3 linked regions of the Homo sapiens genome follow. The protein of the gene in region 1 purifies or fractionates together with the protein of each later gene. This does not show direct contact. Each region holds a gene or a part of one and is shown on either strand. Other genes may lie near its edges.

Evidence for each region. Proteins that work in one complex are often made in the same cells at the same time.
Region 2: the proteins of SRPK2 (region 1) and SNRPA purify together in Homo sapiens (affinity purification with mass spectrometry; 4 studies listed by BioGRID and IntAct, with this or other methods). This does not show direct contact.
Region 3: the proteins of SRPK2 (region 1) and SON purify together in Homo sapiens (affinity purification with mass spectrometry; 4 studies listed by BioGRID and IntAct, with this or other methods). This does not show direct contact.

Annotation. Positions count from the first base shown.
Region 1 is NC_000007.14:105,385,902-105,393,599, forward strand, and holds the start of SRPK2 (SRSF protein kinase 2), read right to left. Parts: upstream 3,021-7,698; 5' UTR 2,906-3,020; coding exon 2,890-2,905; intron 2,802-2,889; coding exon 2,747-2,801; intron 1-2,746. UniProt on the Homo sapiens protein: Serine/arginine-rich protein-specific kinase which specifically phosphorylates its substrates at serine residues located in regions rich in arginine/serine dipeptides, known as RS domains and is involved in the phosphorylation of SR splicing factors and the regulation of splicing.
Region 2 is NC_000019.10:40,746,796-40,754,206, forward strand, and holds the start of SNRPA (U1 small nuclear ribonucleoprotein A), read left to right. Parts: upstream 1-4,407; 5' UTR 4,408-4,613; coding exon 4,614-4,686; intron 4,687-7,411. Other genes in the region: ACTMAP (actin maturation protease), read right to left, coding at 2,686-3,008. UniProt on the Homo sapiens protein: Component of the spliceosomal U1 snRNP, which is essential for recognition of the pre-mRNA 5' splice-site and the subsequent assembly of the spliceosome. U1 snRNP is the first snRNP to interact with pre-mRNA.
Region 3 is NC_000021.9:33,538,977-33,546,041, forward strand, and holds the start of SON (protein SON), read left to right. Parts: upstream 1-4,061; 5' UTR 4,062-4,116; coding exon 4,117-4,193; intron 4,194-7,065. Other genes in the region: GART (trifunctional purine biosynthetic protein adenosine-3), read right to left, coding at 195-339. UniProt on the Homo sapiens protein: RNA-binding protein that acts as a mRNA splicing cofactor by promoting efficient splicing of transcripts that possess weak splice sites.

The DNA of each region.
Region 1 (7,698 bases):
TGTCCCATCTTCATTTTCTTCCTATCCCTTAGCCCTATCTGAAATTATCTTGTCACCCTCTTTGTGGTTTTCCCCAAACCTCCCAAGGTTAGCTTTGCAAGGAGCTTTGTCTTGTTCAAAACTCTATCACCGGCCGGGCTTGGTGGCTCACGCCTGTAATCCCAGCACTTTAGGAGGCCGAGGCGGGCGAATCACGAGGTCAGGAGATCGACACCATCCTGGCTAACACGGTGAAACCCCACCTCTACTAAAAATACAAAATATTAGCCGGGCGTGGTGGCGGGCGCCTGTAGTCCCAGCTACTCAGGAGGCTGAGGCAGGAGAATGGCGTGAATTCGGGAGGCGGAGCTTGCAGTGAGCCGAGATCGCGCCACTGCCCTCCAGCCTGGGCAACAGAGCAAGACTCGGTCTCAAAAAAAAAAAAAAAACAACCTCTAACACCATCTCCGAAGACAGACATGTAAATACCTATTGAAGACATGAATAAATAAATAACATCAAACAGTTCTTTTAAATAATATCTTGATTCAGGTCGGGCACGGTGGCTCACACCTGTAATCCCAGCTGTGTGGGAGGCCGAGGCCGGTGAATCACCTGAAGTCAGGAGTTGTAGACCAGCCCGGCCAACATGGTGAAACCCCGTCTCTACTAAAAAATACAAAAAAAATAGCTAGGCTTGGTGGCGGGTGCCTGTAATCCCAGCTACTCAGGAGGCTGAGGCAGGAGAATCCCTTGAACCTGGGAGGCGGAGGTTGCAGTGAGCCAAGATTGGGCCATTGCACTCCAGCCTGAGCGACAAGAGCGAAACTCTGCCTCAAAAAAATTATTAAATAAAATTATGACTTGATTCAAAGAGTTAAGTGAAAAATGGCAATGCCTCAATCAGTTATATAATTGGGCTGGTCCCGTTACCTTACAGACTAGAGCCAGTTCGTTTCATCATTAGCTGGTGTGTTATTTTCCCCCTCAAATTCTATCACATATACACAATACACAGTGGGAGAAACTGGCAGATTAATCTGTGAGAGGAAAAGCTGAGTACTGTGGCTATTCACTAAGTCTTCATCAACATACCACATAAATCCAAACTGCGGCCCACCAAAAAGGCCCTCGACCATTAGGAAAATCATACTCTAATATATGCAAATACAAGACACATATTGACTTAATTAGAACTGTTTTTCCACATGTACGTAAAGGTAACATGCACATATACGTGTCTATTTGTATATACATGCACACATAGCCATCTCCGACACTGGGGTCATACTTTTTCCACTTGTTTTTATGTTTCTGAGTATAACAGACTACGTGGAATTAAATCAATGCTTTGAATTAAGAGCTGTGATTAAAACACAGTACTTATTCAGAATCCTAAACATTACAGTTCTCCTTACCACTGGGTAAACTTCCATGGTTCACCAAAGGAAATCTCAAATTTAAGGTTGTAATTCACTTGAAAGCTAGCACTAATTTTTTTAAAAGCAACCAAAACTACCAAAAATCCAGTCCATTTTAACATCTTATGAATTCAATATCCAATTTTTACCGACCAATTAGTTCTTCAACTCTTTAGGAAGTGCTTTCCCCTTACTCTAATGGTTTTTTCTTTTTTTTTTTTTTTTAAGGTATTTTTAAGTCACTATCCACATTTTGTGAAACTGAAGGACCAAGGCCAACGAGAAGGGGAAAAAAGTGAGCGTGCTGCGACGTACCCCTCAAAGGAAACAACCAAAAATGTTTCTGGATTTTATTAAAGATAATGCTGGATTCTCGTTCCCCACAGTACCAAAGATGCCACACAGAGTATTCTTGCTCAAAAGAGCGAAGCAATTAATCTAGAGGAAGAGATAACGATGTCGAACGCTGGTAAATCAAAAAAATTAGGAGAGAGGAGTGGAAAAGGAGAAGACGCGGCGGCGCTGTGCGGTCTCGGAGCAGCTCTCCAGGAAAGGGTTCTTGGGCAGCGGCCCCCCTGCTCGGGTGAGCGGCCAGGCTGGAGGTGGCCGCCACGGGCGCGTTTTCCACTCCGACCGGCTCCCGCGCACACGCCCACCGCCCTGCGCAGCCCGCGACCCCGGCGCCCGCAGCGCACCCAAGTCACGCTCAACCCGAGCGGAAAGTTTCGAATCCAAACCCGAGAGCCGAAACGCACAGGTCTCGGGGCTGAACTCGCGCCAGGAACACGCCCGAGGCAAACCACTTGACAACCAGCTTAGGTTCTCAGCAGAAAGGCCGACAGGCGGGGGCCGGGGAGGAAGGGGAGGCGAGACACACGCCCTCCCGCACACTCGGCCCCTCCGCCTCCTCGGCCCGCGGCTCAGGTGGGAGCAACGCAGCCGCTGCACTCCCGCAGCGGGCGGGCCGGAGCCCAGCGGCAGACGCCGGGGCCCCTTCCGGAAAGGGCCGCGACCCCCGGGCCAGCTCGCGGGCAAGGGACGGGTGCGCACGCCCTGCCCGGCGCCTTTCCGCCGGCCTCCCGCCCGCCGGCCGGTGGCGACCCGGGGCGGGAGGTCGCGGGGTCGAGGCTCCGTGATGCTAGGGAACCGGCCGCGGCCCGCGCGCCCCTCCCCCGCCGCCGCCCCTCCCCCCGGGCCGCCCGCCGGGGGCAGGAGCCGAGCGCCAGCGTCCCGGGGGACCAGCCCGCCCGCCGGCCCGGGGACCCGGACAACTTTCCCCTGCGCGGCCGCGGGCGCCCCCGACGGGGCGGGGGTGGGGAACGGGGACAGGCGCAGCGTGGACTCACTTTTTCGGATGTTTCTCTCTTTTCGGCCTCCGCTTTCGGGCCTGAATGGCCAGCACTGGGGAAGAGAAGACACACATTAACGGTCGGGCCGCCCGCCCGGGCTGGCCGCGTGGCGGGGAGAGGGCGCGCCGCGGGCCACTCACCTTTCCGGGAGCTCATTCCGACGCGGCGGAAGCGGGGCGGGGGGCTTCGCGACGGCGACGCGGGCGCCGAGACGAGCTGGGCTGCAGCCTCCACTCGCTCCGCCGGCCGGGAGGAGACGAGAACCGCGCCTGCGCCGCCGCCGCCGCCGCCGCTCCAGCAGGGACCCAGCAAGACCCGCCCCCGTCCGGCCCCGCCCCCGCCCCGCCCCCACCCGCCGGCCCCGGGGGTCGGGACCCCAGCGCCGCGCGCCCAGCGCCCCGCGCCCCCGCCCCACCCACCTGTGCAGAAGTGGCCGCCGCCCATGGCCGCGCTGGCCCTCGGCCTCCCCCACCCCAGCCCGCGGCCCGGGCCTCCGCCTCCTGCGATCCTGCGGCTGGCCCAGGCCGCCCGCCTCTCCCGGGCACCGGACCCGCGGGACCCTCCCTCCCCGCCGCGGCCTCTCCCCTCCGCACCCCGGCCGGTCGCGCCGCCCGCTGCTCCATGCGCCCGTCCTTGGCCGGCGCCTCCGCGGGTCTCGCACCACCTCTCTTCCCGCGGCCTCTTCTCTCCCTTTGCTCCTCTACATCCTTGCAACCCCATGAGCGCCGCTTCCTCCTCTCCGGCAGGCGTGGAAAGGGCACACGACCAAAAGCTGGGAAACCTGGGTCCGCGATTAGCGGTGTGACCTTGGAGAAGTCATTTTCTCTCCCACCTCTAAGTGCCCTCCAGGATTGCATGAGTTTAATGAAGGAAAAGATACAGATAGCATTCAAGGTAGGACAAAGGTTTTGCACATGAATTGAAACTCGCTTCCGTAAACACCAGGTGTATAACAATTCAAAACAACAATCACACCAAGTAGTTATTTTCTGCATCCTACAATGAGGAAACTGAGTCCCAACGAGGTTAAAAAGTTTAACCAGCCAGGATCGAAATTCAGGCCTGGCCGTCGACAAACCACCTTATCAGGCTGCCTACAAAAGATGTGAATCAAGTTGATAGTGACACAAAAAGATAACTGCAATGTTCTCTTATTTATGTAAATAATTACAATAGTTTTTGAAAGATACGCATTCTGACTATTAACTCCCTCATTGGTCACACAACTGTATCTTTGACAAGGTGGCTTACACTAAGGATGATAAATCAGAACGGGAAACTCTGCTTGGATTTTGAAGAGTCCTTAACTTTTTATATTCAAAAAAATATCAAACCCTATAGAAAAGTTACAAGGAAAATACAATTAACAGCCAAATTAACCCATATTCACCAATTTTTAACATTCTGCCACATTTGCTATCTATGTGTCTGTGTGTATGGTTTATTTTGCTGAATCACTTGAGTTTTTGTAGACACTGTTACCCTTTATCCCTAAATATTTCAGTACATATCTACTAAGAATAAAGATAATCTCCCACATAATCAGAATTCCATGATCACTCCAAGAAACTTTCATACTAATACAATGTAATCATCTGTAACATACAGGCCATATATATTCAATTTTGCAAAATATCCCAGTAATATCCCTTGTCGCTGATTTTCTTTTTTTCCCAATTAGTCTACCATTAAGGATCATCCGTTGCATTTAATTGTCATGTCTTTTTAAACACCTTTAGTCTAGAATCATTCTTGGTTTTGTGTTTTGGTTTTCTTTCTATTTATTTATTTATTTTGAAATGGAGTCTCACTCTATCACCCAGGCTGGAGTGCAGTGGCGCAATCTCAGCTCACTGCAACCTCAGCCTCCCGGGTCCAAGCCATTCTCCTGCCTCAGTCTCCCGAGTAGCTGGGATTACAGGCATACACCACCACATCTAGTTAATTTTTGTTTTTGTTTTTTTTTTTTTTTTTTTTTTTTTAGTAGAGACAGGGTTTCACCCTATTGGCCAGGCTGGTCTCGAACTCCTGACCTCGGGTCATCCACCCACCTCAACCTCCCAAAGTGCTAGGATTACAGGCCTGAGCCTCGGCACCCAGCCTTTTTTTGTTTTGTTTTGTTTTGTTGTTTATAACATTGACTTTTTTGAAGAATCCAGTTCCACCATTTTGCAGAATGTTCCCTGTTTTGGATTTGTCTGTTTCCCTATGATTAGATTCAAGTTAAACAATTTTGTTGGCTATACTATAGATGATGTTGTATTCATCTTAGTGCATCAAAATATGATGTCAGTTTGTTCCATTACTGGTGATGTTACAGTTAATTATTTCTCCAAGATACAGGTACCTTTTCCCTCTGTATTTAAGAAGTCTGTATGAAAAATGAGCAAAGGATTTGAATGGACATTTCTCCAAAGACATGCAAATGACCAAACTAGCATGTGACAAGAGAATTAACATCATTAGTTGTTAGGAAAATACAAAGCAAAACTATAATGAGCTACTACTTCACACCTACTAGGATGACTATAAAATTTATTTATTTATTTATTTATTTATTTATTTATTTATTGAGATGGAATTTCGCTCTTGTTGCCCAGGCTGGAGTGCAATGGCACGATCTCAGCTCTTCGCAACCTCTGCCTCCCAGGTTCAAGTGATTCTCCTGCCTCAACCCTCCGAGTAGCTGGGATTACAGGCATGTGCTACCACGCCTGGCTAATTTTGTATTTTTAGTAGATCTGGGGTTTCTCCATGTTGGTCAGGATGGTATCGAACTCCCAACCTCAGGTGATCCACCTTCCTTGGCTTCCCAAAGTGCTGGGATTACAGGCATGAGCCACTGCGCCCGGCTAAAAATTTTTGTAATGGAAAATAAGGCCAAACGTGATGTCTCACAAGTGTAATCTCAGCATTTTGGAGGCTGAGGCTGGAGGATCATCTGAGTCCAGGAGTTGGCGGCTGCAGTGAACTATGATCGCACCACTGCACTCCAGCCTGGGCAACAGAGTGAGACCCCATCTCAAAAAAAAAATGTTAATGGAAAAAAAGTGTTGGTGGGGATTTTGGAACCCTCATATGTTGGAAACATTGAAACCCTCCTACATTTCTGGTGGGAATGTAAAATGGTGCAGTTATTATGGAAACAGTCTGTTGGCTTCTCAGAAAGCTAATTATAGAATTAACAGCAATTCCACTCCTAGGTATATATGCACAAGGACTGAAAACAGATACTCAAACAAATCTTTGTACATGAGTGTTCATAGCAGCGCTATCACAGCCAAAAGGTGGAAAAAACCTAAATGGTCATCCATAAATGAATGGATAAACAAATTGCGGTATATACATACACTGGAATATTTTTTTGGCCATAAAAAGAATTTAGTACTGACACATGCTACAATGTGGATGAACATCAAAAACATTATGCTAAATAAAAGCAGCCAGACACAAAATGTCACATATTGTATGATTCCATTTATATGAGATATCCAGAATAGGCAAATCTACAGAAAGCAGATTGGTGGTTGCCAGGAGTTGGGGGGTGGGAGAAGGAGGGAGCAACTGCTTAATGGGTACCAAGTTTTATTTTGGTGTGATGAAGATGTTTTGGTGCTAGATAGAGGTGGTGGTGGCACAACATTGCTAATAGACTAAAAGCCACTGAATTGTTCTCTTTAAAGTGGTTTCTTTCATTTAATGTGAATTTCACTTCAAAACAAAACAACAAAGTTACTTGTGTGGGGTGATACTTTGAAACTGTGTGAATATCTCTTCCCTGACAATATCTCAATGGGTTGGCATCCATTGATGATTCTTGCCTAAATCAACTATTACCACACTGGTTGTAGAACAGTGATTTTATAATCCTATCATTTTTGAGATGGGCATCTTGCTCTGTTGCCGAGGCTGGAGTGCAATGGTGTGATCTCAGCTCACTGTAACCTCCACTTCCCAGGTTCAAGTGATTTTCCCACCTCAGCCTCCCAAGTAGCTGGGACTACAGACGCACACCATTTGTATTTTTAGTAGACACGGGTTTTCACCATGTTGGCCAGGCTGGTCTGAAACTCTTGGCCTCAAGTGATCCACCTGCCTCTGCCTCCCTAAGTGCTGGGATTACAGGTGTGAACCACTATACCCAGACTTAAGTGATATTCTTTTTTTCTTTTTTTTTTTTGAGAGAGGGTCTTGCTCCGTCGCCCAGGCTGGAGTGCAGTGGTGTGATCTCCGCTCATTGCAACCTCCGCCTCCCAGGTTCAAACAATTCTCCTCCCTCAGCCTCCCAAGTAGCTGGGACTACAGGCATGTACCACCACACCCGGCTAATTTTTGTATTTTTTTTTTTTTGGTGGAGAGGGGAAGGGAAGTCTCGCTCTGTCGCCCAGGCTGGAGTGCAGTGGCGCGATCTTGGCCTAACGCAACCTCCGCCTTCCAGGCTCAAGTGATTCTCCTGCCTCAGCCTCCCAAGTACCTGGGATTACAGGCACCCGCCACCACTCCCGGCTAATTTTTTTGTATTTTTAGTAGAGACTAGGTTTCACCATGTTGGCCAGGCTGGTCTCAAACTCCTGACCTCAAGTGATCTGCCTGCCTCAGCCTCCCAAAGTGTTGGGATTGCAGGCTTGAGCCACCGCGTCCAGCCTAATTTTTGTATTTTTAGTGGAGATGGGGTTTTACCATGTTGGCCAGGCTGGTCTCAAACTCCTGACCTCAGGTGATCCGCCCACCTTGGCCTCCCAAACTGCTGGGATTAAAGGCGTGCACCACCGCATAAGGAGGAGCTTTTATTTCTCCCTCTGGTTTTTCTTTTTTTTTTTTTTTTTTTTTTTTCCCCTCCTGCTCCTCTGCCTTTTTTCTTTCTTTCTTTGTTTCTGGCTTGTTTTTTGTTTTTGGTATCAATATTGACAAAAATTACTGTCACTATTTTTTTGTTGTTTTCAGAGGAC
Region 2 (7,411 bases), on another chromosome or scaffold:
CCACCATGCCCGGCCTCCTTTTTTTTGTTGAGATGCAGTCTTGCTCTGTCGCCCGGGCTGGAGTACAGTGGTGCGATCTTGGCTCACTGCCACCTCCACCTCCTGGGTTCAAGCAATTCTCCTGCTTCAGCCTCCCGAGTAGCTAGAATTACAGGTGTGTGCCACCATTTCCGGCTAATTTTTATATTTTTGGTAGAGACAGGGTTTTGCCATGTTGGCCAGGCTAGTCTCAAACTCCTGGCCTCAGGTGATCTGCCTGCCTTGGCCTCCCAAAGTGCTGGGATTATAGGCATGAGCCACCGTGCCCGGCCCATGCTTATTATTCCTATTCCAAGGCTGGTAAGAAGGCAAGGTTCGGTTTGGGTGTTGGGGGGGTGCGGACTCAGAGCTCCTGGTTCCTAGTTTAGGGTACCCTCCTGATGAAAGATGATACCACATAAGTATGATTAAAAGCATGGAGGCCGGGTGCAGCAGCTCACGCCTGTAATCCCAGCACTTTGGGAGGCTGAAGCAGGTGGATCACCTGAGGTCAGGAGTTCGAGACCAGCCTGGCCAACAAGACGACAGCCCGTCTCTACTAAAAATACAAAAAATTAGCCAGGCGTGGTGGTGGGCACCTGTAATCCCAGCTACTCAGGAGGCCGAGGCAGAAGAATCGCTTGAACCCGGGAGGCAGAGGTTGCAGTGAGCTGAGATCATGCCACTGCACTCCAGTCTGGGCAATAAGAGCGAAACTCCATCTCTAAATAAATAAATAAATAAATAAGCATGGAGCCAGGCTGGGTGCGGTGGCTAACGCCTGTAATTCCAGCACTTTGGGTGGTCGAGACAAGAAGATCGCTTGGGCCCAAGAATTCAAGACCCAGCCTGGGCAACACAGCAAGACTCTATATCTACAAAAAAATATATATGTACAAAAAACTAGCCGGGCATGGTGGCGCACATCTGTGGTCCCAGCTATTTTGGAGGCTGAGATGGGAGGATCACTTGAGCCTGGGAGGTTGGGGCTGCAGTGAGCTGTGATCCAGCTACTGCATTCCATCCTGGGCAACAGAGCAAGACCCTGTCCCAAAAACAAACAAACAAACAAACAGCTTGGAGCCCTGCCGCCAGAGTTCAAATTGGACTCTTCCTCTTTCTGCACTATAGCTAAGGGGCATTATAGCTAAGGGGCTTCACTTCTATGAGCCTCAGTTTTCTCACCAGGAAAATGAGACAATAAAAGTTTCTACCTCATGGGGTTGTTGAGAGGATTCAGTAAATTAATATTTAAACACAACAGCGCCTGACATAGGGTAAGGCATTCAGTAAAAGGTGGCTGTAATTTGCATTAAATTTGCCTCATCTCAGTGGGGGCATTTAGGGAAGGTTATAAATGTGTCCGGAGGCCAGGCCCAGTGGCTCACGCCTGTAATCCCACCACTTTGGGAGGCTGAGGCAGGTGGATCACCTGAGGTTGGGAGTTCGAGACCAGCCTGGCCAACATGACAAACCCTGTCTCTACTAAAATTACAAAAATTAGCTGGGCGTGGTGGTGGGCGCCAGTTCACTCCAGCCTGGATGAAAGAGGGAAACTCCATTAAAAAAAAAAAGTGTCTGGAAAGCTTGGAGTTTCAATGTGAGTCCTGGCAAGTCGCTTCTCCCTCTTTTCTTCAGCCAGGCAATCACTAAACCTCAGCCTCAGGGCCCCAGCCTAGGTCTGGCACTCTCCTTTCCCCTCCCACCTGGGTCCCTGGATGTCCCAGTTTCCTCAAGGCTCCTAAGTACCACTTCCACAGGCAGCCTCCTTTTCTGCACAGAGCCTCTCCAGGGCTCCCCCGTGCCCTCAGGAAAGTCTCAGTCCCTTTGCACGACCCGCTCTGTCCTGCGTGGGCTGGCTCTGCCGCTTTCACAGCCCCATGTTTGCCACTTCCCCCGGCAAGTTAAGGACATATTTGCAGTTCCTTGAATAGAACATGTCCTCATTTCACTCCAGGCCCCTGCGCAAGCTGTATACTCTCATCACACAGCATTTGCACGACTTGCTCAACAGCACTCAGGGTTCCCCTTCTCCAAGAAGCTCCCCCTGACTCCCCAGCCTGGGTCAGACACCCCTCTGGGCTTTGTCATGACAGCCCTGACCACTCTGGGTTGTCACTGTCTGGAAAGGTGGAGGGATCTGTCTCTCTCACTAGACTGGGCATTTGCTCTTTTTTTTTTTTTTTTTTTTTTTTGAGACAGAGTCTTGCTCTGTCTTCCAGGCTGGAGTGCAGTGGCGCAATTTTGGCTCACTGCAACCTCTGCCTCCAGGGTTCAAGCGATTCTCCCGCCTCAGCCTCCCGAGTAGCTGGGACTACAGTTGCATGCCACCACACCTGGCTAATTTTTGTATTTTTAATAGAGATGCGGTTTCACCATATTGGTCAGGCAGGTCTCCAACTCCTGACCTCAGGTGATCCACCCGCCTCGGCCTCCCAAAGTGCTGGGATTACATGCATGAGCCAAAGCACCCGGACTGGACTGGGCACTTGTGAGGACAGCTTTCTTCATTGCTGGAGGCACACCACCATGGAAGAGATCTAGGTGGGGGACCTAAGTAGTCAGCCTGTTTGATCTTGAGGACACGGGAACCCCCCCCCCACCCCAAGAGATCTGTGAAGTGTCTAGGGCAGAGCCTGGGTGGTGGGTGGGGCATGGAGACCCTACCGGTCCTTGTGTAGTTTCAGAAGCCTCTTCACATCTTCTCTGCCCTTGGGGACCGGGCCGGCCTTATCAAAGGCCTCCTTCAGGAGCTGGCTCTTCTCCAGGCCGAAGACATGACGGGGAGCAGGCCCTGTGGCAGCGGGTGGAGGAGGCAGTGGGAGCGGTGGGGGAACAGGGGTCTGCTGACTCCAGGGAGGGGATGGTAAAGCTGAAAAGTCCAGGGGACTTGGGGGTAGAGGAGGAGATGGAATGCTGCTGGCTTGGGGTACAGGGGTTTTTGGAGGAGAAATTGGTGGTTTTAGGGGAGGAGAGCATGGAGAAGTCATTTTGGGGTCTACAGGAGGTGTTGAGAGGTTCAGAAAGCGGGGAGGGAAGGATCCTCCAACGGAGAACGGTCTCAGGGATGGAGATTTTAAAGGTTTAAGAGCTGAGTTCCAGAATCTGGGGACTGAGCAGTGGGTGTGAAAGGACCAGGGCTAATATTTGAAACCACGGGAGCAGGAATTGCGAGGCTGACTCAAGTCATAAGGCACCTGACGGTTAACAGGGTGGGGTCCTTAAATCCGGAACCGGATCTGTGGTACCGGTTGGGTTACCTCGGGAGTCTTAGGTGGAGAGTTAGTAGGAGTTAACTCATTCTTTGGGGCTGGATGTGGAAACTCATGAGTGAGTTTGGGATATGAAGGCTCAGATCTAGAGTGAGGTGCCTTAAGGATGCGACTTAGGGACCCAGGGCTAAAGATTCGGAGAACTTAGGTTCAGTACCCCCTCACATCCCAGGCCCGAGTTCGGAACCTTTGAGCTGACCTTTGAGTCAGAGGTCAAGAGGTCAAAAAGGACACCTGGCAGGGAAAATGGCCTAGTTGTGGAGAAGGTCCTGGAACCAGAGCAACAAAAAACGTCTGTGGGTTGGAGAAGACTCAGAGATCAGAGGCCGGTGGGCGCCGCGATAACCACTGGAAAAAGGAAAGGAGTCAGGAAGTAAAGTGCACCTCCCACTCCCGGAAAATGGCGGCCCCCGCACACTGCCTTTCCCATATCACGTGGTATTACACGCAACAGTTCCCGCCCATTTTGCGATCACGTGACAGAAAACGCAGCTCTGGCGGGGGTAAGAGGCGGGACTCCAAAAAGGATTGCCTCCGGAAGACACCGCAGCGCGAGACGCGTACAGACTCGTGACCTTCACTGATTGGTCCGTAGACCCGGGCGCCACGGAAGGAGGTGGGCTTTCAGGGAGTGGGGCGGGGTTTTTCTACCTAGGCGGGAACCCAAATATCGTTTTGATTGGCAACAGCTGAGCCCAGAAACGAGACTTGCTCTGATTGGTCAAGCTACTGCGTTTCCGCGCGGCGATTGGCTGGCAGAAAGGCAGAGGCGGGGCCAGGAGAGAAAGCTTTGTGGTTTGGTCTCAGGGAAGTAGCAGGCGCCGGTTGAGAGAACTACGGCCCTGTCGGAAGGTAACCTCCGGTGCAAACGACCATCGGCGGCAGGCGAGCGGTACGCTTGGCGTCCGGGCCTTCCTGGGCCCGTCTGAGGAAACTTGCTGCTCGAGGCCAGGCTGCCTAGGACCTGTCCCTTTTTTCTATACTGGCTCCCACATCCGGGTTTTTTCTCCGGGACGGCCCTTCGGATGCTTGGGCCAATGGGAATCGCCATTTAGGGTGCTCCGCCCACCGGGTCGCGTAGAGCATCCTGGAAGTCGTAGTAAATCTCTCGAGAGTTCTCTCCGCACGCGGGCTGGAGAAGCGGGTCCTACGCACGCTTTGTTGTCGCGCTTTGCCTCCGTCCTTGCCCCTACTCCCGCCTTACCTGACTTCCTTTTCGGAGGAAGATCCTTGAGCAGCCGACGTTGGGACAAAGGATTTGGAGAAACCCAGGGCTAAAGTCACGTTTTTCCTCCTTTAAGACTTACCTCAACACTTCACTCCATGGCAGTTCCCGAGACCCGCCCTAACCACACTATTTATATCAACAACCTCAATGAGAAGATCAAGAAGGATGGTGAGTTCTCGGGATAGTCCGGAGTCCAGACTGTCCCGCACGGGCTGGCCCCTCTTCCGTCCCCTGCACCCGCCTCTCTTTCTAAGTGTTTGTCCAGCCAAACTTCGAGTTAACTCCTTGGCCTTTACACAAACTACTTCCTGTCTTCAACACTCCATTAGTTCATCTTACACTCTGCCCTTTAACGTGGTCACTGCTGCTCATCTTACAAGGTTTGAGGTCACAGGACCCTTCCTCCAGGAAGCCTTGCCTTGTCCCTTCACGTGGCTGCCGCTGACTTGCCGTACGCTGAGACCATCTCCCATCAAGCCCTGATTCCTCTGAGCTGTCGTGGGGCTCTCTCTCCTCCCAGTGGCCTTTGAACTCCGTGAGGGCAAGGACTGGGGCTTTCTTGGTCACCGGCTTTTTCAGTGATCAGCCCACAATGAACATGTACCATAATGGTGGCTAACGCTCTGTATCATGGGCTGGTCTGTGTGCTTTCATATAAATCTTGATAACATTTAATTCTCACAACAATCTTGTAGGAAGAAGGCTATTGTTATTCCCATTCGTCAACTAAGAAACTGGGGCCGGGCGCGGTGGCTCACCCCTGTAATCAATCCCAGCACTTTGGGAGGCCGAGGCGGGCGGATCACCTGAGGTCGGGAGTTCGAGACCAGCCTGACCGACATGGAGAAACCCTTTCTCTACTGAAAATACAAAATTAGCCGGGCATGGTGGCGCATGCCTATAATCCCAGCTACTCGGGAGGCTGAGGCAGGAGAATTGCTTGAACCCAGGAGACGGAGGTTGCAGTGAGCCGAGATTGCGCCATTGAACTACAGCCTGGGCAACAAGAGCGAAACTCCGTCTCAAAAAAAAAAGAAAGAAAAGAAAAAGAAACTGAGACAGGGGTGATGTGACTTGCCCAGGGTCACATAGCAAGTAAAGTGGTTGAGGCCACCCGTATAGAATTCTGCTTAGGAACCCAATTTTTGGCCGGGCGTGGTGGTTCAGGCCTGTAAGCCCAACACTTTGGGAGGCTGAGGCAGGAGGATCACTGAAACACAGGAGTTCAAGATCAGCCTAGGCGACAAAGCCAGACCTTTTCTCTACAAAAAAAAAAAAAAAAAAAAAAAAGGCTGGGCGTGGGTGGGGTGCGTCTGTGGTCCCAGCTACTTGGGAGGCTGAAGTGGGAGGATCGCTTGAGCTAGAGAGGTTGAGGCTGCAGTGAGCTATGATTGCACCACTGCACTGCTGCCTGGGCTGAGCAAGAACCTATCTGAAAAAAGGAAAAAAAAAAAGAACTCAATTATTGAAATCGGAAAGACTCTCTCACATTCTCAAGTAAATTATCACCTTTATTGAACCTCATTTTCCAGATCTAAAAACTGAGCAAAATCATAATACCTTTTTTGCATGGATGTTGGGGGAGATTAAATTAGCTAAACCTTGCAGTATTTCTTTTTTATGGTAACTGGCAGCTAGTAAAGGGCTGGATAAATGTTAGCTCTTATCACTTCAAGAAAATTATCGGGAGAACCGAAGGAGCTTGTTGGGATTCAGTTTGAGGTTACCAGTGAAGTTGCTGTTGAAGAAAGCAAAACCAGCAGCCGGGCACTGGCTCACGCCTGTAATCTCAGCACTTTGGGAGGCTGAGGTGGGCAGATCATTTGAGGTCAGGAGTTCAAGACCAGTCTGGCCAAGATGGTGAAACCCCGTCTCTACTGAAAATACAAAAATCAGCTGGATGTGGCGGTGCGCACCTACAGTCCCAGCTACTCGGGAGGCTGAGCAGGAGAATCACTTGAACCCTGGGAAGCAGAGGTCGCAGTGAGCTGAGACCGCACCACTGTACTCCAGCCTGGGTGATAGAGACTGTCTCAAAAAAAAAAAATCAGGAGTGTAAATTTTGCATATGTTTTTTTTTTTTTTTTTTTTTTTTTTTTTTGAGGCAGAGTTTCACTCTGTCACCCAGGCTGGAGTGCAGTGGCACGATCTTGGCTCACTACAACCTCTGCCTCCCAGGTTCAAGCGATTCTCCTGCCTCAGCCTCCCGAGTAGCTGGAATTACAGGCACCCGCCACCACGCCTGGCTAATTTTTATATTTTTAGTAGAGACGGGGTTTCACCATGTTGGCCAGGCTTTTCTCGAACTCCTGACCTTAGGTGATCCGCCCACCTCGGCCTCCCAAAGTGCTGGGATTACAGGTGTGAGCCACCACACCCGGCCTGCATATGTTTTTAGAGTGTGGTGCCCAACCATTATCGGGCAGTGCTGGGGACACATTGGTGACATAGAACCCTGGTTTTTTGTTTTTAAATCTTATTTTATTTATTTATTTATTTTTGAGACGGAGTCTTCCTCTGTCGCCCAGGCTGGAGTGCAGTGGCACCATCTCTGCTCACTGCAAGCTCTGCCTTGCCTCCTGGGTTCACGCCATTCTCCTGCCTCAGCCTCCCGAGTAGCTGGGACTACAGGCGCCCACCAGCACACCCGGCTAATTTTTTGTATATTTAGTAGAGAAGGGGTTTAACCATGTTAGCCAGGATGGTGTTGATTTCCTGACCTCGTGATCTGCCCACCTTGGCCTCCAAAAGTGCTGGGATTACAGGCGTCAGCCCCAGCGCCCGGCGTTTTTTTTTTTTTTTTGAGATGAGACGGAGTGTCGCTCTGTTGCCCAGGCTGGAATGCAGTGGTGCGATCTCAGCTCACTGCAACCTCCGCCTCCCGAATTCAAGT
Region 3 (7,065 bases), on another chromosome or scaffold:
TCACCATGTTAGCCAGGATGGTCTCCATCTCCTGACCTCATGATCCGCATATCTCGGCCTCCCAAAGTGCTGGGATTACAGGCATTAGCCACTGTGCCCAGCCTATCTTTATTAACATAAAGTACAGATATGGTTGACAGCATACCATTAATAACAAATAATAACTATTACTCCCCACTTTAAAACATGATTACCGGTATTTGAAATCTTTTCAGAGCAGGCAGTGCCTGCGTTTCCTGGGGCAACCAACACTTGTTTGACATGATGAGACTGTGCAAGTTTCCAGGCCAGCGTATGTTCCCTTCCTCCACTGCCAATTATAAGTACTCGGGCTGCCATTGTTCTGTCTGTAAAGCAGAAATTCCAAAGGAAAATGAAACCTGCAGAAAGAAAACCACAGTTTATATCTTAGGATGCACATTTTAGAAACCCAGGGACGGGCACAGTGGCTCATGCCTGTACCCCCAGCATTTTGGGAGGCCGAGGCAGGTGGATCACTTGAGGTCAGGAGTTTGAGACCAGCCTTGGCCAACATGGCAAAACCTCATCTCTACTAAAATACAAAAATTAGCCAGGCATGGTGGCGGGTGCCTGTAATCCCAGGTACTCAGGAGGCCAAGGCAGGAGAATTGCTTGAACCTGGTAGGAGGAGATCGCAGTGAGCCAGGATCACGTCACTACACTCTAGCCTGGGAAACAGAGCAAGACCATCTCAAAAAAAAAAAAGAAATCCAGATTTGTAAATATAATTTAAGTAATCATTTGTACTCATACAAATGACATTTTCATCCAATGATTCATTTTTGAAAAACTGGGATTCATAATTTGAGAAATATGACTGTCGTCATAAGCATAAGGGAGGTATTTCAAAAAGAAGGCAGGCTGGCCTAGAGAGCTAGGTTAAGGAGTCAAACGATGACTCTCAGCTCCTTATGTGATAATCTCCCTTCTCTGGGCTTCACTTCAAAAAGATTTAATAATCATCATGCCTTAGTTATGAAATGAATCTTGTTTTAGACTCAAAATGTATTATAAAATATCAATTTTTAAACCTTGAAATCTTACAGATAATTAGGTTATCATAAATTAAAGGATATACTGAAAACTGGGGTAAGCAAACTTTACACAAAAAGGGCCACATAGTTCTGTCAAAACTACTCGACTCGGCCACCTTAGCAGGAAAGCAACCAAAGATAATACGAAGATGAATCAATGTGCCAATGTCCAGAAAAATTTAATGGACCCATAAACAGGCAGTGGGTCAGAGATCACTGTTGCCTATCAGTACTTTAAGTAGCAGGAAACCATCAAAGGTTTGTAACAAATAAACGTGACTCGCTTTCAATAAAACTTTATGTACGGATACTATAATTTGAATTTCATAAAATTTTCACATGTCACAAAAACCTCATTTATTTCCTGTTCTTTTTCTCAATCATTCATATTTGGTGAGCTGTACAAAAGCAGGCAGCAGAAGGATTTGGTATGTGGGCCATAGTTTGCTGACTCCTAATTCAAATAGCGCAATATGCTAGAATATTGGTAGAGAAGGCAAAAATCAAATTCCAACTCATTTCACTTTAGTTCTGGCACCTGAGACTTAGAAGGATGGATACAACAGCAGTGTAACCTAGGAGATTAACTGAAATGACATTTATAAATAAGTACAATCTGGCACTCAGCAGTAGTAAATGTTAACTTGTTACATTTACTTACCACAAGACAAACTGGTAACAGGAAAAAGAAAATTGAAAACTTATTTTGATGATGTTGGGATTACATATTTTAAGAAAAATGTAAGCTGACAATATACAAAACTAACATTTTTTTGAGCACTTAACCTTGGGCAGGGTACTATTTAAAATGCTTGTCATGAAAGAATCCTATGAGGGAGATACTATTACTATCACCAATTTGCAGATAAGACAAGGAGGCCCAGATAGGTAAATAACTTGCTGGAGGTCACACAGGTAAGAGGGGGTGGAGCCTAACAGAAGCAATTTTGCTTCAGATTCTCTCAACAAGTGAAACGATGATCATTGAAAATTTGAGAAAGGAAAAAAAAAAACCCTGTTAAATTACAGTCTCGGAAGGAACAGCTACTTTAGTGTAACGGGAAAACACATTTTACTTGCCATGTGTATCTGAAATAAACAGATTTTTTATTTTATTTATTTATTTATTTGTTTAGACAGTCTCTCTCTGTCGCCCAGGCTGGAGGGCAGTGGTGTGATCTCAGCTCACTACAACCTCCGCCTCCCGGGTTCAAGCGATTCTCTTGCCTCACAGCCTCCCAAGTAGCTGGGATTACGGGCGTGCGCCGCCACGCCAGGCGAATTTTTGTATTTTTAGTAGCGACGGGGTTTCACTACGTTGGCCAGGCTGGTCTCGAACTCCTGACCTCCAATGGTCAACCCACCTTGGCCTCCCAAGTGCTGGGATTACATCACATCCGGCCAGAAATAAACAGATCTTTAAATCTAGAGCAAATGTTACATCTTTAGTTTGAATATAGCAGTAGTGTGGGAAAATTCTGTTTACTCTAGTGGATCACTGAAAATAGCCTTACTACCCAGTGGTGAGGACGCCTGGGCTCCTGAGTCTCACACAGCGCCTTGGCCTGGGTAGAGACGCTGCCCCATACTAGCAGGAAGACCTTGGGGGACTTCACTAACCTTGGGCCTCATTCCTCAGAATGGGTAACATAAGCAGAATAAGACAGGCAAATAAAGCCGTATCAGAGGATATGGAGAATAAAGTAGAAACCAACTACAAAATTAACCAAGTAATCTGCCAGAGACAACGGGTGCATAAAGAGAAAGTACACCAATTTAGGGTTATGTCCTAAAAATGTATAAAGACACAAAAAGGCCTTGACATCTTAGAAAACAGGAAAAGTAAAAGAGCAAATAGAAACCAGCTAACAGTAGCAAGTGAAAAGCACATGGCCAACCCCCACCCACCGCATTTACAAACAACAGGAAAATTTCTACAAATCAGTTTCTATGGTTTCACTCAGTTCGCGATCTTAAATCCCCAAACCAAAGCCTAAGCGCGCTCCGTGTAAAAGCGGAGGGGGTTTACGCACCGACACCGGGTGGCCACCTGGTTCCCGCTTGCCCGCTCGCCGGAAGTCGGCCCACCGGGACCGGCGCGGGACCAGCGCGGCACCGCCCCTCACTGCCCCGCCCTACGACGGCTTCCCTGCCCCATTGGTCCGCGCGGCCCTGGGTCTCCGCGGCGAGAATCTAGTCTGATTCCCTCCCGCCCTGGGCGCTGCCTGACTGCTCCCCAGCCGAGACACCCAAGCCTTAGCACGTTTATAATGTGACAGTGGTACGGGGTGCCACGCAGTGTTTCCAGGAGCGCCGGGGGGGAGCGCCAAAATGCTAAACCCATTCTTAGCCAATTGTGCGCCGCTCACGAGTCAGAGCTGAGCAGCTACCGCGGAAAAATCTCGTGACACGCCTGACTCCTGATGAGACTAAAATGCACCGGGCTTTGAATGCCGGTCGCTTAGGACATCCGGCCTATTGCTAAAAAAAAAAATGAGGCTGGTTATAGAACGCACTGGGGAAGACACAGGGCAACAGCGAGTTCCTCCTCTCACATGCCAGTGGGGGCGGGGGCTGAAAAATTCTCTCCCGGATGCATATCCCTGTCGAAACTGAACTTGGCGCCACCTGAGAGCGCCTGAAAGCCGTGTGTTAAACACCGGGTTGCCCTTCTTGCTCTTCTTCCTCTTCGCCTTTAATCTCAGGCACTTAGCAAGCCTGTTAAGGCTCCCAAACACTGCTGGGGACTGACAACTTATGCGGACACGGTCGCCTCAAGAGAGACGGCTCCTGTAATGGCGCCTGCGTCAGACACTAACATGGCGGACATAGTCGTGCGCGGCGCAAACGTCAGCACCTCTACCCCAGCCGCTCAGAAACAGCAGAGGAGAGCAGGGCCGTGCTCACTGATTGGTCCCTCGGTGGAGCGGGCCGGACCGGGCATTCCCTTTGGAGCCAATCAGGAAGGCGAGAGACCGAATTGGCCCGTGCGCCTCCTCCCGAGGCATGCTGGGAGCCTGGAGGACTAGCGAGGAGGAGTTGAGAGAACGGAGCGGACGCCATGGCGACCAACATCGAGCAGATTTTTAGGTCTTTCGTGGTCAGTAAATTCCGGGAAATTCAACAGGAGCTTTCCAGGTAAACGCCTCCCAGATTCTTCTGCTCCCAACGGACCGTTAGGCCCTCACCTAGCCTTCTTTGGCACCTTTCTTCGGAGACGCAGTCGTTCCCCGGCTCAGGCCCCGCTAGGGCCCCGCCTGGGCCTGGGATCCATTTTCCGGGCCCCCCCCAACCGCCCCCCCAGCCGCTCCCTTCCTTTTCCCTCGAGGAACTTCGCCTTTTCCGAGGTAACCCAAGACTCCCTGTTTCAGAACCGAGTTAAGATGTTCACCCTTCTCCCCTGTTTGGGTCCCCCCTGCCGTTTAGCTACTCGTAGGCCCGGTTGTCCGCCAGGGACGGGCCTAGTTCCTTCCTCAGCTCCTCCTCCGCCGCCGCGTATCCCCTCCCCCTCTCGCCTCCGCGGATTTTGCCGGCCGGTGCCTATGACCGGAAAGGGTCTCTAACGGCCGTTTCTTGGTTAATCTTAAATCCTCTTTATTATTGCGAGCTTCAGACCGCTTGGGGGTCTGGATCTATTAATAAGATTATTCGGGGCCTAGTGTCCTGTAGTATCTGTCAGCCGTTCTGATAGTTAAATGTTTCAATTAAAACGAACTCAAACTGATGCACTTGCTAGTTTGTTAAAATACTCGAGATAAAGATGGAAGGGGACTTTGAAATGGTTGCGATTAATTACAGCAAGTGAAAGTGGACTTTGTGTGTAGGTCTATTATTTTCTTGCTACCCCTGCCCCAGTTGACACGCTATTTTTGTCATTGCTGGTAGACTTTACATAATTTGCGCTTGGCTTCACAAAATTTGAAGGCGAAGAGATTGTTAAAGAAATGGTTGTTTACTTAGGAAAATAGTGTGTCATGTTCAGCGGTTGTCTCTCGATATTTGCTTTTGTATAAGATACTCATTTCTTTAAAGTACAGAAGTAGGAAAGAGATCTTGAAACGTAAGTGTTCCGAGTTCAAGTGTTTTTAATTGTATTTTAAAAGTTGAGAGCAAGAGCAGTACGTGAATTTGAAAATGGGCCGAAAACCAGTTGTAAGTGCCCAAAGTAATACAGGATTATTAGGGCAATGATGTATTATTGCTAGAATTATCACTTTTGCAGAATGTGTTGTTTTTTAAGTGGAAATAGATCCACTCACATTGCTTTTTAAATTTTTGTGATATTGCTAGTAGTGTTTTGGATGAGAAGAGACCCGAGCTAAGAGAATATAATTTTCCTGACAAATCTCTGGCTGCAATAAGTAGTTGTTTGCTTAGTTTAACGAGGTGTGTTTTTGTAGCTTTTAAAAGCTAGTCTTTCCTTTAGAAAATGAGCGTTTTATTATAATTTAGAAGACATGAAAAAGGAGAAAAGAAAAAACTCACGTTATTGATATTCTCATGTCATTTCATTTCCCCCCCCATGTATTGTGTGATATGTGATCATCTTGTTTTGTATTGATCATTTTTCCAGCTAATACGTTGTGAACAGGTTTATCCCTCTCAGTCTCAGTCTTTTGGACTTCTTCATGGCTGCATAGAATCCCATTGTAGGAATATACTGTTGCATATTTAGGTGGTTTGAAATTTTCATTGCTTTTCAGTAAATGCGGTTAACGATTGCTGGCTTTAAGATGAAATCATTACTTCCTTGTAGATTAACTTTTAAAACCATAATTACTTTTCTGATTTTCAAATTTGTCATAATTATGTATAAATGCTTAGGAAAATTGTAAAATAAAGTGCTACAGAAGGAATATCTAAAAATAATATTAGACGAAGCAGTTTATTACTAGAGGAATATGCAGCTTCTCTTCAACACATAATGCGTTATCAGTCTGCAAACAAGTTTTTGATTATTTGCCATTTCAGTGAGCTGTTTTTTTTCTCATCTGCTTTTATGTAAATTAGAGTAATGAGGCTGACATTTAGATAGTTAAAACAAGTTATCGAACTTCTGTTATAGATGGTGTGTAAGAATATGGCCTCTGGTTTGAGTACCAGCTTCACCTCTTAGTAGCTGTGTGACCTTCAGCTAAGTTTCTTCATTTATAAAAGAATAATAGTGGTGATCTCAGAGTTTTGTTAGGATTAAATGAGTTAATGTAGAACAGTATGACACTAGTAGTCAATAAATGATAATTATTATAACTATAATTATACAATTCATTGTATTAGAAAGCCAGATGTTCCTTAATAATAATTAGGTAACTACTGAATTTTTTTTGGTTTTTGACCATTCAGACTTTTATCAGGTAGTGGAGCATAATTGATGTGTTTTCATTTAGCTAAAATTGAAGTTAAAATCAAACTGTTGCTGAAAGTATTTGATTTTTCAAAATTTTGCAAATTCACACAAAAATAGTAAAAATTACTGGGCGAATGATATGTTCTTACCTATTTAAAAATTTCTCTGGCCCTGTGAATGGAACATGTGTTAAGCCATCTATGCTTTTACTGTTGGTATAAATGCCACTTGTTTTATGTGAGTTTTATAAACCAGAGTTCTTGATAATTGTGTAAAAATTACATAAATTATTTTCCTTTTTAAGTTCAGTGGCATTTCAGTAGCAATGTAAGCCTGGACAGAGGTTACAGGTTACCCTTTTTATTCAGTGTGCCTGTGGCTAACTTTTGTGTTCCTTGATACTATTGATGGTGATTGTGATTTATGCACAGCTGTGGCTTTAATGTAGCCATGGTTTCTACCATAATGTTAGGCCACATGTTTTTCTTTTGATTTGTGACCGGGCTCTTATTAATTTTTCTCCCCTGAAAGAAATATGTGGGTATCCCAAAAGCCTAAAGTTAGATTTCTGAAATTATTTTGTTTAACAAAGAGTGTACTTAGAAACCTGTTTTCTTAATTTTCATAGTTCTGAAAACTTTAATTGTATAAAAATGAAATGTC